Regions from separate parts of the Homo sapiens genome. Here region 2 is linked to region 1. The links come from fine-mapping of genetic effects on gene expression. Tissue or cell type: esophagus muscle. Region 1 holds a variant in brackets; the other region holds the start of a gene. All regions are shown on one strand. Distances are from middle to middle.

Region 1 (8,095 bases):
TCTGACCCTCTAGCTGAAGGAATGGACCCCATCTCTGACCTTCCAAGGCTGGGCTCTGAGGCTGTGTAGCTGTTGTGGGCACCACAGACTGTCTGTATTGGTTATTAATGCCTGTCTGAGAACACGGGGTTCGGATCCTAAAAATACTCTGTCCAGCCAGAGCCCAGGAGTTGCTGGCGTGGGCCAGTGTGGCAGTGGCTGCATCTTGGTCAGATAGAGACAGAGAGGAAGAAACACACATCCAACGCCAGGAAAGACTGGGAGAGTGTGTGAATATGGGGAAACTGAGGCAGCATAGGTGAGAGATGCACAAGAAAGAGAGCCTTTGTTTTATATGGAGCAAAGATTTATAAAATTACTGGTGCCAGTTAGTCAAATTATGGCAACATTTAGGGTAATCTGTTATCCTAAATAACTGCAGAGAATTTCCTTCTAAGAGAGTCTGGAGATACAACTGATGTCAGACATAAAAACCAAGTAGTCAGTAGGATCCATTTCAAGACCAGCTTCAGGATGTTCCAAAATAAGAGTGTGGCAAAAAACACAAAGTGTTCCCAACTACCCTTTTCTGAGCCACTGCCCTCCTCCTTACCTCTTCAGAGCCCCTGCTCTCAGCCAGAGTCCCAATGAGGGGCTTAAGACTCCCTTTTATAGCCTCCCCCAACTTCTAAATCCCAGGTCTTTGCGTAGCCCCTCTCTCCAGAAGGGAGCTGCACAGTGGTTCCAAAAAGGCAGAGGAGCCCAGAGTCAGAGGGAAGATGCCATGTGACCTCGGCCCATGAGCTGACCCTTGTGGGCCCCTCCGTGAAATTGCGGGATGGGGGGCTGGGCCCTGGCCCAGGCCCGGAGAGAAGGCGGTTTTGGCACCCATCCAGGCCCCTGACGTCAATGACTTTCCAAATAATGGAATCAATATTGGGGGCTGGGGGCAAGCGTGAACCAGGCCCCAACGATTAGAAACAGATCAGCACAACCCCGCAGCTGATTCTGATAGAGCTGCCTTGGCGAGCTTGGGTGGGAGGCCTGGAAGGAGGTGGACTTGTGGGGGTGGGGTTGGGGGGTGCTCAGGAATTGGCAGGCGGAGCCACCTGGTGTCCAGAGCTTGAGGGTATACAAGTGGGCAGAGATTCGGGCTGTCTGGGATTGGAATGATGGGGTGAGGACCCCTGTCCTGGTGCCTTCCTCCTGTGAGCCTACAGGGTTCTGAGGCTAGGTAAAGTTTGTGGATGGAGACTTAGCCAGCTAGCGATAAAGAGTGGGCAAGGGGATTTCATCTCTCTGCATCCCAGATGTGGGCCCCTAGGCCATATTAGGGGTCACAGGTTATACCCATGCAGTGGAAAAGTTCTGAGTGAGACCTAAGTAAGACGACTTTTTGCTTGGAAGCAAAGGGCATTAATCCAAGATAGGGAGATGGGTATCCCTCCTCAAATTGGGAGTATGGCCTCCTCCACCAGCTCACATTCTCTCAGCCTCCTAGAGGACAGCAGGTGAGGATGGAGGGGACCATAGGGTTTATGGGGGGCTGGTCTGGCAGCAGCTGACAAAAAACAGGAAGAAGGGCTGGGGGAGCGGCTGTAATTATGGGGCATTTATTATTAATCAGATGAAATTGCTGGAAGCAGCTGGTGTAATGTGCGTAGCTATACAGACTCTGCATGCTCCCCCCACAATACGCACACACACATACGCACACCACACACAGCCTGAGCCTTGCTTGCTTTCACAGTCTGTTTCTTGTGAAGGTCAGATGGGTCTATATGTGTCTGTCTGCATACTGGAGTGTATCTGTCGGTGTTTTTTCATGTCAGCCTGTACCCTCCTCTACTCCTATTGTCTCCTTTTCCAGCTATCTCTCTCATTCTTTGGCCTAATGTGTCCCTCTCTGTCTCTGGCTTCCCCTCAGTCTTCCTCCCTTTGAGCCTGTCTTGGTGTGGCTGTATCTGTCACTATCAACCACCTGTCTCTAACATCTTATTTTAGTTTCTGGCTATCTCTCCCTGGGTGGTGGTGTCTCTGCATCTCTGGGCAGGATTGGAAGACATGGAATCCCTTTCTCATGGTATGTGTTTAGGCACCTAATCATACCTTTGGCAGATATATCTGGGACCTGTTTTCAAGGGAGCAGTTGGACCCTGAGGATCTCCTGGGGTCTTATAGAAGGTGAGGGGTCTTTTGAATGGCTAGAGTCCATAGAAGCAACAGTGGCTTTCAAGATATCCCTGAGTTCAAGGCCAGCTCCTTTACCAACTACCAGTTGTATGACTTTGGCCAAGCTGCTTCTGCTCTCTGAGCCTCAGTTTCAGGATCTGTAAAACAGAAACAGGATTACCTCCAAAGCTTGTGTTTTTTTTTTTTTTTTTTTTTGCCATAGGGTTTCACTTGGTCACCCAGGCTGGAGAGTGCAGTGGCTCAATCTTGGCTCAGTGCAACCTTCGCCTCCCACGCTCAAGTGACCCTCCCACCTCAGCCTCAGGAGTAGCTGGAACCACAGGCACATGCCACCACGCCTGGCTAATTTTTTGTATTTTTGGTAGAGATGGGGTTTCACTATGTTGCCCAGGCTAGTCTGGAACTCCTAAGCTCAGGTGATCCACCTGCTTCAGCCTCCCAAAGTGCTGGGATTACAGGTGTGAGCCACCATGCCTGGCCTTGAAGCTTGTTTTGATGATTCAGTACCAAAATGTAAATTAAGTACTTATCACAGTGTCTGGGTAACCAAGGACCCTGAACAAGTGATACCTGCTGTTATTATTCTTGGGAAAGACATTGTGCAGGTGGGTGAGAGACCTGCACAGGCAAATTGGTATAGCAGCAAGGTTTTGGAACTAGATACGGACTCAAATCTAGACTCTGGAACTGATCAGCTCTGTGGTATTGGGCAAGGCCTCCTTGAAGCTCAATCTCCTTGGTTATCAAATGTGAAGAACAATAAAACCTACCTCATGGAGAAATCATGAAGATTAAGTAAGATAATGCATATAAAGTGCCAAACACAGTTCCTGGCATATAATAGATGCTCAATAAATCATAGTGGTGATAAGGAAGGGGGTGTTACGATGGTGGTTATTTACACCGTGCCTGTGACCCTGTGCCTCTAGGATTGTGCATGTGAGGATGCATGTGATATGGAGGTGCCTGTGTGTCTGCAAACTGATTGTATAAGAATTGTGGATTGTCTGTGGGTGTGTATCTGTGTATTGTATCAGGCCACTGCCTTCTGGCAACCTTTGTCCCTGTGGTTCAGAACCTGAAGTCAGCAAGGGGTGCTGGGAGGGGTCTGTATTACTCTCAACTTTTCTTCTTCCAGACGTTTAGCTGCTGCCTGCCTCAGTCTCCCCTTCTCACAGTGGGGCTGTGAGTATGGAATGGCCTCTGAGTTGGACTAAGGCCTGTGGCTCCTCTGTGACCTCTGATTTGTGCCCTTTGCCCTTCTAGACTCTAGCCTTGTCACCTCATCTTGCCCCCTTGGTTTTGGAAGTCCTGAAGAGTTGGTCTGGAGGAGGAGGAGGACATTGATGTGCTTGGTGTGTGGCCAGTGGTGAAGAGGTAGGTGCTGGGGCCCACGTGGGGCAGATCAATCTCAGGGAATCAGGCAGGTGTAGTGGGGCTGTACGTCTAGGGGACATGAGTGGAGGAGGACCTGAGATTCCTTCCTCTCTTCCCCTGTCCTTTCTTTTTCCAGAGGTTTTGGGCTCAGCCTGGCTGAGGCTTTTCATGCTCTCAAATAGAAAGGGAAGAGACTTACCTGTGGTCACACAGGCAAGGGCAACACCAGGTTAGGAAACTGGGTTCTATACTAAGGGGGTGCTGAGTCCCAGATATGGGAGTATGTTTCTGTTTCAGTATCCTCAGATTTCCTCTCTGCCCCCCAGACATCTCTCTTATTTGATTGGAGGAGCAGCTAGGCTTTAAAAAGATGGGATGGCAGGTCAGAAAGTCCAGAATCTTCTGAGGCCAGCTGTGGGGCCGAGCCTGACTCTCCCTGTCTCTCATTCAGGCCAGGCAAGGCCCCTGGATTGGCAGCTTGGGGGTGGGGGCATCCAAGGCATCGAGGCACTGGAGCGGAACGGAAGGGCCTATTGTCCAAAACCCGCCAGAGGCCCACAAAGGCCGGCCGGGCTTTTCATCTCAGCTCCCAAACAGACTGGCCATTTTCCCGGCTGGGGGCTGAGGGGGGACTAACCCTTCACAACTAGGACCAGGTTGTTGTTGAGGGTGGAGTGGGGTACCCCAGGCTGACACATAAAAGGGGCTTAAGATGGAGCTGGGGCCCAGGAGAGGAGGAAGGGAGGCCTGAGAAGGCTGTAGAGAGTTAAGCTTTTCACCCCACTGTTCCCAGAGGACCCAAGGACATGGGGTGTGTATCTGATAGAAGTTCAGACTAGGATGGGGCTAGGAGATGGATTTACAGAATAAAAGATAATATTTATGGGGGGTACCTTGGGAGGAGTCTGATGGCTTATTTGGAAAGTGTGCTACTGGGCTGAGAGGGCACGTAATCCTCCGCAAACTGGGAACACCTTAG[G/A]GAGCCGGGACAGGAGCTGGAGAAGAGAAGGATAGTGGTCGGGGAAAGAATGGGCTCCCTGCAGCAAGAAGAACTGAGGCCAGACAGCAGGAAGGACTTCCTGCCAGTGAACAGTAGCTCAGATGCCCTGACCCTCTTCCTGGGGATCTCAGAGGATTGCCTCAGCGAGCAGGGGAGCTGGAGAACACCCCAGGGGCTCAGGCTGAGGCAGCTTCTGTGGGGGCCAAGGAGGAGGAGGCCAGAGAGGGAGGACTTGGCAGTTCTGTTCACCCTCCCCCAGCAGCACCTCCAGCACCACTTTAAAAACAGCTTTTTAATTTAACAAAGTGGATGAAAAACGGTTTTTGGAAATAAAGAATATCTGCTGTCTCCCAGGCTAGCACTCAGCCCTTGCAGAGAGCCTCTCTCTGGGCTTCTCCCTGCTGCCCATGGTTCCTTTCCTCCCTGTCTCTTTTTGTTTGTTTGTTTCTGCTCCTCAGCCCCCCAGCTTCCTTTGGCCTCCCATCACCCTCTCTCTCTCCATCACCCTCTCTCTGTCCATCTCAGCCTCCGTGGGAGCCTCGCCCTCAGTGTCTTATCTCAATGGTATCTCTGCATTTCCTTCTGTCTCTCCTCTCCCAGTCTCTCTCTTCTAGGGCCCATCTCTCTTTCCTGATTTGTCTCTGTCTCCCAGCCTGTCTCAATCTCTGTCTCTCCACCCCCCTCCTTCTCCCCCAACCCCAGCTCTAAATGGGTCTATTTAAAACGCCCAACGCTGCCAAGTCAGAAAAGCGTCTCCTGATAAAGCGCATTAGGCGGAGGGAGGGAGGAGGGGGAGGAGGGAGCGGCGGGCGGACGGATTGATCCAAGCCCGTAACCCCATTAATCAGGCAGCGTGGATCCCCCTCCCTCCCCCGTTCCAGCCCCTTTTGAGCTAAAAGCCCCTTAAATATTTATCACCCCTCCCCCACAGGGGCGAAGGGAGGAGGGTATGGCCCTTGGTGTGAGTATCCCCAGCTGTCTGGTGCCCCCGACCCCATGCGGATGTGCATTTGCACGTGTGCGTGTGCGTGTGCTCATGTATATGTGTACGGGTGTGCACACCTGACAAGCCCAGGGTCCAGTGACCAACCTGTCCGTCACCCTCTGGGCAGCCTGGTCCCTCCCTGGAGACCCTAGGAGTCTGGCCCTGCTCCTGTCCCTCCTAAAGGCGGATCTGGGGTCCTCATCCCAAATGCAGAAAGTAACTGGAGGACGGGTGGCATTGCACTGTCATTCCCAGAGGGCAGGATGGTGAGCCTGGGGTTCAGTTTCCAGATTCCCCCAAATTCCCAGCACTGGAAGTAACTTGGGGAATAGAGTTGGGGCCCCGTGCTCCTAAAGTAAGGCAACTTGGAAGGCTGGCTGAAGTTCCTGCTTTATCCTCACAGGGCAGAATAGGACCTGGAATAGGACCTGGGGGTAGGCTGGGAGCCTCCCGTGCCCTAAAAAATGTGGGAAAGTGAGCTGGGCCTTGAGGTGTGGCGGTCACCCCGGGAGGAGGAAGGTAGCCGGGAGCTGGGGCCGGGTCCCACATCTCTCACCACTTGCTGATAGCCCCAGGCAGCAGAGGTCAGCCCTGAGACCAGCAGTGGTCTGCCCGAGTTGGCCTGCGGCAACTTCTCCTTGGGAGGGGAAAGGAGGCCCCGGCCACCCCTGGGTGTGGAGAGGGGCCGGGACCGGAGCGGGGAGGGTCCCTTCTGCCTCCCCTCCCCCAGCATCAAGTGCCACATCTCCTCCTGACTCAGACAATTAGATTCAAAGGATGACCTCACTGCATGCCGTCCCTCACTCTCCCTCCGCTAGCTCGCTTGCTCGCTTGCTCGTTCGCTTGCAGCGCGCTCCTTCCTCCCCTCCTCCCGGCCCGCTTGCCCGGTCGCTCACTCGGGGCTCGGCCCTCGTCGCTCACCGCGCGGCCCGGCCCCTCGCCCACCCGCCCGCCGGGACCGCTGTGGGGGTTGCTTCTGCCTCCCGGGTCGTTCCGGCTGCCCGGGCCCCAGCCCCGCAGACCCGATGCCCGCAGGCGGGCAGGCGGACCCACGGAGCGCCGGAGGCACCGACGGGGCGCCTGCGTGGGGACCCAGGTCAGTGGCCACAGGGCCGGAGGACTTGTCACCCCCGCCGCCGCGACGCCCCCGCCCCGCGCTCGCCCGCCCGCCAGCCCGCCCAGCCCGCCTCGGCGCTTCCCGCTCCTTTCTCGGCCTCCGCCCCCCGCGGCTGCTCGGCGCGCTCCCCCTGCCAAGCTGTCTCTCTTCTTTTCTCTTCTCTGTCTCTCCCCCCAGCCCCCCTGCCTCTGCAGCCGGTGGGAGGGACTGGGACTTCCTGAGGTCCCAGGGATGGGGCCGGGGCCCATTGGCTGCAATCGGACCAGGCCTCTGAGAGGGGAGGGGGCTCTGGCTGTGTCCATTGGCCTGGGGGAGGGGACCACCGCCTGAGTGGAAGGGGGGCTACAGAGAGAGAGGCCCAGCGTGTGGGGGTGACATCTAGACAGAGGGGATGAGCTCCTGATATCTTTCTTTTCTCACATCCTGTGGGCCTCTTGCCTGGTTTCATTTGATCCCCAAAGCCTGGCTTCATTTGTCCACACCTCCTAGCTAACTTTAGTCCCCACTGCCTGATTTCATTTGGCTCCCACCACCTACCTTCTTTGGGGCCCTGTCACCTGGTTTCCTTACACCCTGCTGCCTGGTTTCTTTTGTCCCCACTGCCCCCTTCCCCGAAGTCCCTATCACCTGGCTTTATGGCATTACCCCTGCCTGGTTTCCTTAGGTCCTGCCTGTCTTCCGTGGAGTCACGTCAGGCTCCTTTTAGGATGGAGGCATCAGGGCCCCAGCTACACCTGGAGTGGCAAGTGGCAAGGATGTCTGCAGCATTGCCGATCTTTCCTGGGCTGGGGCCTGGCCAGCACAGCCTGGATTCCATTCTGACTGGACAGCGACTCCGCGTCTACTCCTCCAGTGATGGGGGCGGGGCTGCAGGGTCCAAGGACACCTTAGGACTCTCCTCCTCAGTGGTTAGTTAGAGGAGCACCGCTGGCTCTGCCTGCTCCCCTCCTGCTGCTGGGCATCTGCCCTACCTCTCTGTGGGCTGACAGTGATGCCAGGGCTTTGGTGGGGGCTGGGGGGCTGGAGTGGAGGTCTCATCTCCTTCCCTTCTCCTGCCCTTTCTGCAGCCAGGCCAGACATCTGGGTGCCCGCTAGACAGTTATGGGCACATAGAGGTTTTGAAGAGGCCTTGGGATCACACAGCAGATAGCTAGGCTGAGAGCTGCTGCCGATCCGCATCGTGGGGAAGAGAGGGTGATGAGGGAAGGCAGCAAGGGCCTGGGAAGTCGGCTGATTTCTGGGCCTTTCTGGCTCTTGCTGATTCCAGTGCCACCATCTGTCTCCCCCAGGTACTTCCTTCACCTCTCCTGTCTGGAATGGATCTCCCTTCATTCCCTAATGCTGTTGAAAGCAGGGTTTGGGGAAGAAGGAGCTGCCTGGGGAATAATCATTTATTTTCTCACTTTTTAGGGACCAACGAAGTATTTCCTTTCCTTTTCTTTCC
Region 2 (8,094 bases), 250 kb after region 1:
CCTCAGAGCCTAGGAGGTTCGGGACCTAGGTACCAAAAAAAGAATTTACAAATACATGGCTATGCTGTTTGTTTCAATATTTTCATCAAATTAATCAGAGTAACTGTAAAAAGCCCTCAGAAATGTAACTTTAGGTACAGGAAGAGCTCTCCAAATTTTCCCTCTGACCTGTTCTCCATATTCTAATATCCCTTTAGCAGAAACAGTGTTTCATGCCGCGTTGTCAATTAAGCATCTATATATACTGTGCCAGCTATACTGTGCAAGACTTTTGACAACTATTGTTTCTAAAGCTCAAAACAACCTTTCAAGAGAAGCATTATTATATCTAATTTACAAGGACACTGATATTATTTCAAAAGGTTAAAATACTTGCATAAGGGCATAGCTGGCCTGTAAAGGATGGGATTTCAATCCAAGTAAGTCTAACTCCAAAGTCTATAATTTTTGTCCCTTTCATAGCTCTGTTCACCATGAAAGAGTAGGGCTTAGGACACAAATGGCCCTGAGAGAGGACAGACAAGATTTATAAAATCATTTCCAGTTTCAAAATTCCCAGTCCTTTTTTTTTTTTTTTTTTTTTTTTTTTTGACAATGTCTCTCTGTGTCATCCAGACTGGAGGGCAATGGTATGATCACAGCTCACTGCAGCCTCAAGAGCTCACTGCATCCCTTCTGGGCTCAAGGAATTTTCCTGTCTTAGCCTCCTGGGTAGCTAGGACTACAAGCAGGAGCCATCACATCTGGCTAAATTTAAAAAACACTTTTTTTGTAGAGATGGGGTCTTGCTATGCTGACCAAGCTAGTCTTGAACTCCTGGCCTTAAGTGACCTTCCCACTTTGGCCTCCCAAAGTGCTGGGATTACAGGTGCAATCTACTGTGCCTGGCCCCAAATTCCCAGTCTTTAATCTATATTCCTTTGGAGGTTAAGATGTCTAGCTGGGATCATTTCCACCAAAAAGGTTTTAGTTGGGGGGAGAGGGCCGTAGATGTTAAATCCTGGTATCCGAAGAAGACTCTGAAGGAGGGGTAAAATGTAGCCTCAGGCTCCTAATAGCACCCATCTCAAAAGGGTTTCTATGCCTCCTCTGCTCTTTTCTGGGAAGTAGGAACCTAAAACCACATGTTCCACTTAACTTAGGGCACTAGTGTCCAGAAAATTTGCCCAGACCCTCCTCCAGATGAGGAGGAAAGCCAACTGTTTGCCTGCCCACAAGCAATTCTATGTGACTGCAATTCTATGTGACTACTCCCTCACCTCCCACATCATCATCATCTTTTTTCCAATTTGCCAGTTTCTTTCTTCCCTTTTGGAGTGGACAGAAATGAGGCACCCACCCATGAGTAAAGCTCTTTCTTGTAAGAACAATAACAAATGGAAGAGAAGAAAAAAGAAAGAAATGCAAAAGAAAAGCCCCAACTACCATGAATAAATTGAGACAAAGAAAATATTCCCTCAAATGCACCTTTCCCTGGACATCTGCCACTCCATTCTTGCAGAGACGAAGCTGCTGAGTCATTTTGTTATTTTTGCTATTGGCTGAGGGAGGAAACAGGAGATTTTACCTGTAATGGCATAAATATTGGCTTCTAGGATAAGGCCAAAGTCAGACAAGGTTGGGACAAAAATCATTCTTAGTGAAGGGGATTTGTTAAGCAGCCTATTAGTGCCATCTGCTGTACAATTCTAGAAAGCTAACTCGGGGAATTTGTCTGTTGTGCGTATCCCATGCGACAGACAGTGTGAAGGATTGACAGATAGATATGAAGCTGAATACTACCAAGCACCAACTTCCTAGAGATTTACAGGCTAGTGAAAGTGGAAGACATTCCAACAGACAAGTTACAGTGTGTTTTGTGCAACGTAAGATGGAAAGGCAGCAAAGAAGCATCTTTAGGTTAACAAGGTACCCCATAAGGATTCTGATGGGTCACTAGTTTACCAGGCAGAAGGGAGGCGGATGCAAGGCACTGCCAGCAAAGGGAGGAGTGTGGGCAACACCCTCAAGCACAAAATGACATCTCATTGGTAAACAGCTTAGTTTATATTCTGTAGGCAATGAAGCCTCTGACTGGTTTTAGGCAAGGGTATAATTTGGTCAGACTGACATTTTACAAAGATATTCTAGCTGCAAGCAAGCTGGGGAACGAATTAGGACAGATTGGAGGCAGAGAGATTAACCAGTTACAAGTCTATTGCAACAGACCAGTTAACAAATGATTCCAGTTAGATCAAGGCAGAGGCTGTGAGAAAGGAAAGGAAGGGATGAATCTGAGAGATATTTCAAAGTAAAATGGACAATAGTGATATTTCATTGTCTAAGGGACAGAGAGATGTTTCATAAGCCAAGGGAAAGAGAAAGGCTTTGGTTTGAGTGCCTGGGTGGAGGAGGGGGTGCAAGTGAAGCATTTGTTTGGGACAAGTTGAATTTGAAGTGCTATAGTCTATCCATAAGATAAATGAACAGATGGGTCTAAAGTTCAGTGATCATCTCATCCTATCTCTTCATTTCCCAAGGTGGGAATTTACTTTTTTAAAATTATTTTTATTAAAACAATTTTTTTCTCCTCCCTTCTCTACCAAGACCACGGTGAAAATTTTCTATTAGAGCAAGATATTGCTCCTACCATAGGTACCTCTGCAGCTCACATTCCCTCCAATTTAGGTAAGTCAAGCTGTCCAACCTGCCCCTGCATCTGTCTGGTATTCCAAGCATTTTCATCCTCCTTTAGTCAGAAACACAGAAAAGCATGGCTGTCTATGCAGTCAGAAAGGCCTAGCTATTGAAGTTAATAGAGCAAGATACTTAGAGCAAGATACTTAACTTCCTCATTTGTAAAATGAAGTTAACACCTACTTTGCATGGTTGTTGTGGAGTTTATAAATGACATATATAGAGGGTCTGACATTATCAGAGGTACTAAATATATGAGTTACTGTTACCCGTGTGTCATAAAAGATCATCAAAAAGCTTCTCTGTTTTAAAGAAATGACTTTTCATCTTGTCTGTTAAACTGCTCAACACTGTTCACCACAGTATATATATTCCTTATAAGGTCCCACAGCATAAATTCCTTTTAATATAGAAACTAGAAAAATAATTTATCTTTTGAAGAATGGATTTGTTTCCTTATTAGTAAGAATTACCTTTTTTCCCTTAACTGACTAATTTTGGGCAAAATTGGGTACTCAGTTACAAAAAGTACACCAACGCACTGACTAGTGTATTTGCCTGTTCTTATTATAAGAATAATAGCTACCTTTTTTTTTTTGAGACGGAGTCTCCCTCTGTCGCCCAGGCTGGAGTGCAGTGGTGCGATCTCTGCTCTCTGCAAACTCCGCCTCCCGGGTTCGTGCCATTCTCCTGCCTCAGCCTCCCGAGTAGCTGGGACCACAGGCGCCCGCCACCACGCCCGGCTAATTTTTTGTGTTTTTAGTAGAGACGGGGTTTCACCGTGTCAGCCAGGATGGTCTCGATCTCCTGACCTCGTGATCCGCCCGCCTCGGCCTCCCAAAGGGCTAGGATTACAGGCGTGAGCCACCGCGCCCGGCCGCTACCATTTTTTAAGAAGTTACTACTCGCCAGGCGTTGTGTCAAGTGCTTTACCTTCATTATTTCACTTAATCTTCACAACAACCCGCTGAGGCATTACTGCCATTTTTCAGAAGAGTAGAAAGGGAACTATAGCTCAGAGATGTCTGGGTAAGTGACTCAAATGTAGGTCTGCCTGACTCCTAACATCAATGATCTTAACCTTAACTCTATAATAGCGTTTTACATTTGACAATTTGATTGCATTCAGTTTTTTTTTGTTTTGTTTTGTTTTTGAGACGGAGTCTCGCTCTGTCGCCCAGGCTGGAGTGCAGTGGCGCGACCTCCGCTCACTGCAAGCTCCGCCTCCTGGGTTCATGCCATTCTCCTGCCTCAGCCTCCCGAGTAGCAGGGACTATACGTGCCCGCCACGACGCCTGGCTAACTTTTGTATTTTGTTTAGTAGAGACGGGGTTTCACCGTGTTAGCCAGGATGGTCTCGATCTCCTGACCTCGTGATCCGCCCGCCTTGGCCTCCCAAAATGCTGGGATTACAGGCGTGAGCCACCGCACCCGGCCTGCATTGTTTACGCTGTCCCTTTTTTGTTTGTTTGTTTAAGGCGGTGGGGCTCTTGTTCGACTTTCTTTACTTCTGCTATAACTGCCACGATATTATCCATTCAATAACTGAAGCAATTAGAAAACATAAAATCTCTTTTGGAAAGCAGGCGGGGTTTAATGGGTAGCAACAAGTGAAACTGAGGCCCAGGGAGGGGAAGGTTCGGCGCCTGGGCCTCTGGGCCCTAAACCTGGACCTCTCCCGCCTCTGGGATTTGGACGACCCACCCTATCCCCACTCCGACGGGGACAAGCAAGGCTCAGAGTCAGGGAACCTCCCTTCTCCCGGTGCAGACAGGAAAACTGAGGTCCTGAGAGCGGATGGGACCTGGCCTGCCCACACCTCACTGCCAACTTAGAGGAGGGCGCATCCCTCTCGGGCCCTGCAGCGACCAGAGGTTTGCCAGAGGCAGATTCCCATCGCTCCAAGGCTCATTTCCTCCACTGAGAACTAAAATCAAGTGGGCCCTTAAGGGTACTCACCCGAAGCAGAAGGAGGTAGGAGGCGGACCTTGGACGGAAACTGAAGTACACCGGCCAATCAGAAGAGCCTGGTTACGCTTGGGCCCATCAATAGAATTCGGCAGAAGGATCTTCGACCCGCCTCAAAGGTGCGCGTCTCACACTGAAACGTCGCGAGATCTTCCCTCAAGCGGAACGATTGGCTGAAGGTCGGAAATTGAGAGTTACGCCCACGGTTTCTTCAGACCTCTGATTGGTCTTCCAGAGGAGAAGTCAACGAACGTCAACCGATTCCTTGGATGCCCATTGGTGGGCGGTGCGGGACTGGCGACGCGCGGGCCACAGCGCGGGCGTTCGAACTGGCGCTTGGCGGCGTTGCCATGGAGATGCGGCCTGGCCGCCGCCGGTGGCTCCCGGGTTGACGGGACTGTTAGGTTGCGGGCTTTGGGGCTCACTCCCGACGGCATTGTCTTCTCCTCTTCTCAGACAGGGCAGACCGAGGAGTTTGGACCGAGGTGAGAAAGGGCGGGGAGAATAGAGGAGGGGTAGGTCTGGTCCGGAACCGTGGCGCCTGCCCGCGGACACGGGTGCGCGTGACGTCGGCTGAGCGCGGGAGGAAACTGGCAGTTGTGAGGGAACCGAGAGTTGGCCCCTCTTGGCTCTTCCTAAAGTTCACCTACTTTCCTATCTTTCATCCCCATATCTCTGCCTTTTCTTCAGCAATTATCTTGAACGCCACTTCTCTCACTTTGGGAGACTAAACTCTTGAGTCCCAAAGCCTTCTTGCTTTTGAACCGATAAGCCTGACCGGCACCTCTTTTAGGGCATTTCTATTCGCCCTTGGGTTGTTTACTTCCGGGAAGCCCGTTCGCTTCCCTTTTCCCATAAAATTTTGAAGCCTTTGAGGTAAGGCAAGCATCGTTCACAATGTCTTGCACATAGTAGATTTTCAGGAAATATTTGTTGAGTTGAATTTAATTTACAAGAAATAGATTGGATTCCTCTTCATGCCCTGCCTTGTTGTCTCTCTGCTTCAGAGACGATTTTTTATTTCGAGGCTAGGGGGAGGCCACCCTAATCTTCAATGCAAAAGGACCTAAAAGTCCACACACAGTCCACAGCTGGCCTTTCTACTCTTTGTGAAAGGCTAAACTTTTTTGGATTGGTTGCTGCAACTCTTCCTGCATCTGTGGCTTTTAGCCTTGGTCTCCCAATAATTTTATTAGACTCCTTTTAGTCTTTGCTTAAAATAAACCATTCTGTTGCTGTATGCCAAGATAATTTATCTCCCTTTAGCTTCTTAGTGACCGGCAGCTATTGTCACATTTTAAGTGTGCTTTGGAAAATGTTTTAAAGCATCTTCTTTGTACTTGTATTCTACAAGTAGAGAGGCTTTGTAGTCTCTCTATTGAAGTGCATATAACAGCTGCTCAGGTGAACTCCATCTATTCATCAGGTGTCTATGATAGAATTGCGTTCCTAAGACTGTTTCGTTGTTAACTCATGGATTATATATTCACAGCCTGATTGTTGGTGTGATTGCTCCTTATATCAAATTCATAGCTCACTGGTGGCCTTAATAAAAGGAGTGAAAAAGTTCAGTACAGCAGCTATGTTCTTGTTACCCTTTTATAAAAGTTTGAAACACTACCTTATAGCTGTGACATGTAGTGGAAACCCACTACATGTGGGTTTGGCTTTGGCTCTGTCTCTGTCTCTAATTCACTGTGGGTGGCTTTGCAAGTCATTTAGTCCCTTTATTATTATTATTATTTTTTTTTTATTAGAGAAAATGTCTTGCTCTGTCACCCAGGCTGTAGTGCACTAGCATGATAATAGCTCACCGCAGCCTTGAACGCCTGAATCTAGCCCCTTTAGACCTCATTTTTTCCATCTGGAAAATCAAAGAATTGAATTAGATTAAAATTCCTGTGGCTCTACTCTCAAGTCAAGTAGTTGATGTCAGGTAGACCACACACTCTCAGCCTTCCAAAGACCATACAGACTTTTTTTTTAGCTGCTGAAAGTAGTAGTTACCATTTATTGAGTGTTCACCCCGTACAAAGCACTGTATCCAGGGCTTTATATGCATATTACATTTTTCTTAGTGTAGCACATTACTGCTAAGATAGCATTTTATTTAAAATTTGTGGTTTTATATTGTTAATGAAAATCTTTAGTTATTCAGAGTGTGTCCTTGGGGCAACCTAAGGTATGAGCCTCTCAGTTTTTAGTTTAGGGAGAACCACAGTTTCTTTCTCTGGGCTGCTCTTTTGTCGTAAAGTGAGGGGCTGAACTCTTCTAGATCCCTTCCAGATCTAGTATTCTATGATGCCTGATATATTAATCCAGTTTCCCTATGCTGGCTCAGCAAACCAGTTTATAATTTGCACAGTGTAGATCCTCAACACATTTTGTTAAATAAATAATAGAGTTCTACTTCTTAAACCTTGAGTGTATGGTCATTGTATACCTCCCAAGTTACTGTCTCAAGGGTTTTGATGTTCATATCGTGTTGAATAAGAAGAGTTTTCTGTAGGTATAAACTAATAATAATAGTATAATATATTGTTGAGTGTTTATATATCAGACACTGAATGTAGCAGTTAATTTACATTATTCTAATTAACCCTCATGAAAGGAAACATTTTTTCCAAGTCAGCATTTTTTTTTGTCAGTTCAGTGCAGTAGCTTCCTAAATGATCTCCCTGTTTCCACTTTTGCCCACCTGCTGTGATCCATTTCCTCACAGAACTGGGAGAGTGAACTTTGAAGACGAATCATAGCATATACTTTCTCCACTTAAGATCCTCTAATGACTTCCTACTTCACTTAAAAGTAAAATTCAGACACTTTTATGTGGCCCAGTACACCCTACATAATCTGGCCCCTACCTTTCTCTCCTCTTCTCATACTATTCTCCTTCTCACCTACTATGCCAGCCAACCTGTCCGTGTTTGATGGCTTGATTTTGCCATGCTCATTTCCACCTTTGGGCTAATGTGCTCACGTGGAACCCTCTTCCTCCTGATTTTTACATAAGTGACTCCATGTTATTTCAGGTTTCACCTCAAATATTCCCTTCTGAATGAAGCCTTCTCTGATCATCCAATGTAAAGTAAGCCCTGCACTGGGCTTTATTCTTCGGTAGTGATTATCATCATCTAAAACTACCGCTTATTGATTATTAATTATCTCTTCCCATTAAAATAATAGTGTCATGAGGGCAGGGACCTTATCTGTTTTTTGGGGGGTTTTCTTGAGACAGGCTCTTACTCTGTCGCCCTGTTGCCCACACTGAACTGCAGTGGTGTGATCATGGCTCACTGTAGCCTCTGACTCCCAGGCCCAAGCAATCCTCCCACCTCAGCCCCCCAAGTAGCTGGGACCACAGGCATGTACCACCATGCCCAGCTAATTTTGTTTATTTGTAGAGACAAGGCCTCACTATGTTGTCCAGGCTCATCTCAAACTCCTGGG

Evidence for each region. PIP is the estimated chance that this variant, and not a neighbour inherited with it, causes the effect.
Region 2: NUDT2 starts here. The variant in region 1 is fine-mapped to the expression of NUDT2 in esophagus muscle (GTEx, PIP 0.96).

The regions. Positions count from the first base shown.
Region 1 is chr9:34,576,549-34,584,643 of GRCh38, reverse strand. It overlaps CNTFR (ciliary neurotrophic factor receptor), which reads left to right. Exons shown (of 10, transcript NM_147164.3): 2 at 3,439-3,549. It overlaps CNTFR-AS1 (CNTFR antisense RNA 1), which reads right to left. Exons shown (of 2, transcript NR_024369.1): 2 at 1,572-2,309. Among named protein-coding and RNA genes, the nearest start is that of CNTFR, 9.1 kb to the left of the region's middle. RefSeq lists an enhancer at 5,109-6,083. The variant G/A (reference allele first, on the strand shown) is at 4,529.
Region 2 is chr9:34,326,141-34,334,234 of GRCh38, reverse strand. NUDT2 (nudix hydrolase 2) reads right to left here and starts at 4,666. Exons shown (of 5, transcript NM_001161.5): 1 at 4,636-4,666. It overlaps KIF24 (kinesin family member 24), which reads left to right and starts at 4,967. Exons shown (of 13, transcript NM_194313.4): 1 at 4,967-5,129. RefSeq lists enhancers at 4,721-4,910, 4,446-4,953, 5,041-5,140, 5,241-5,300.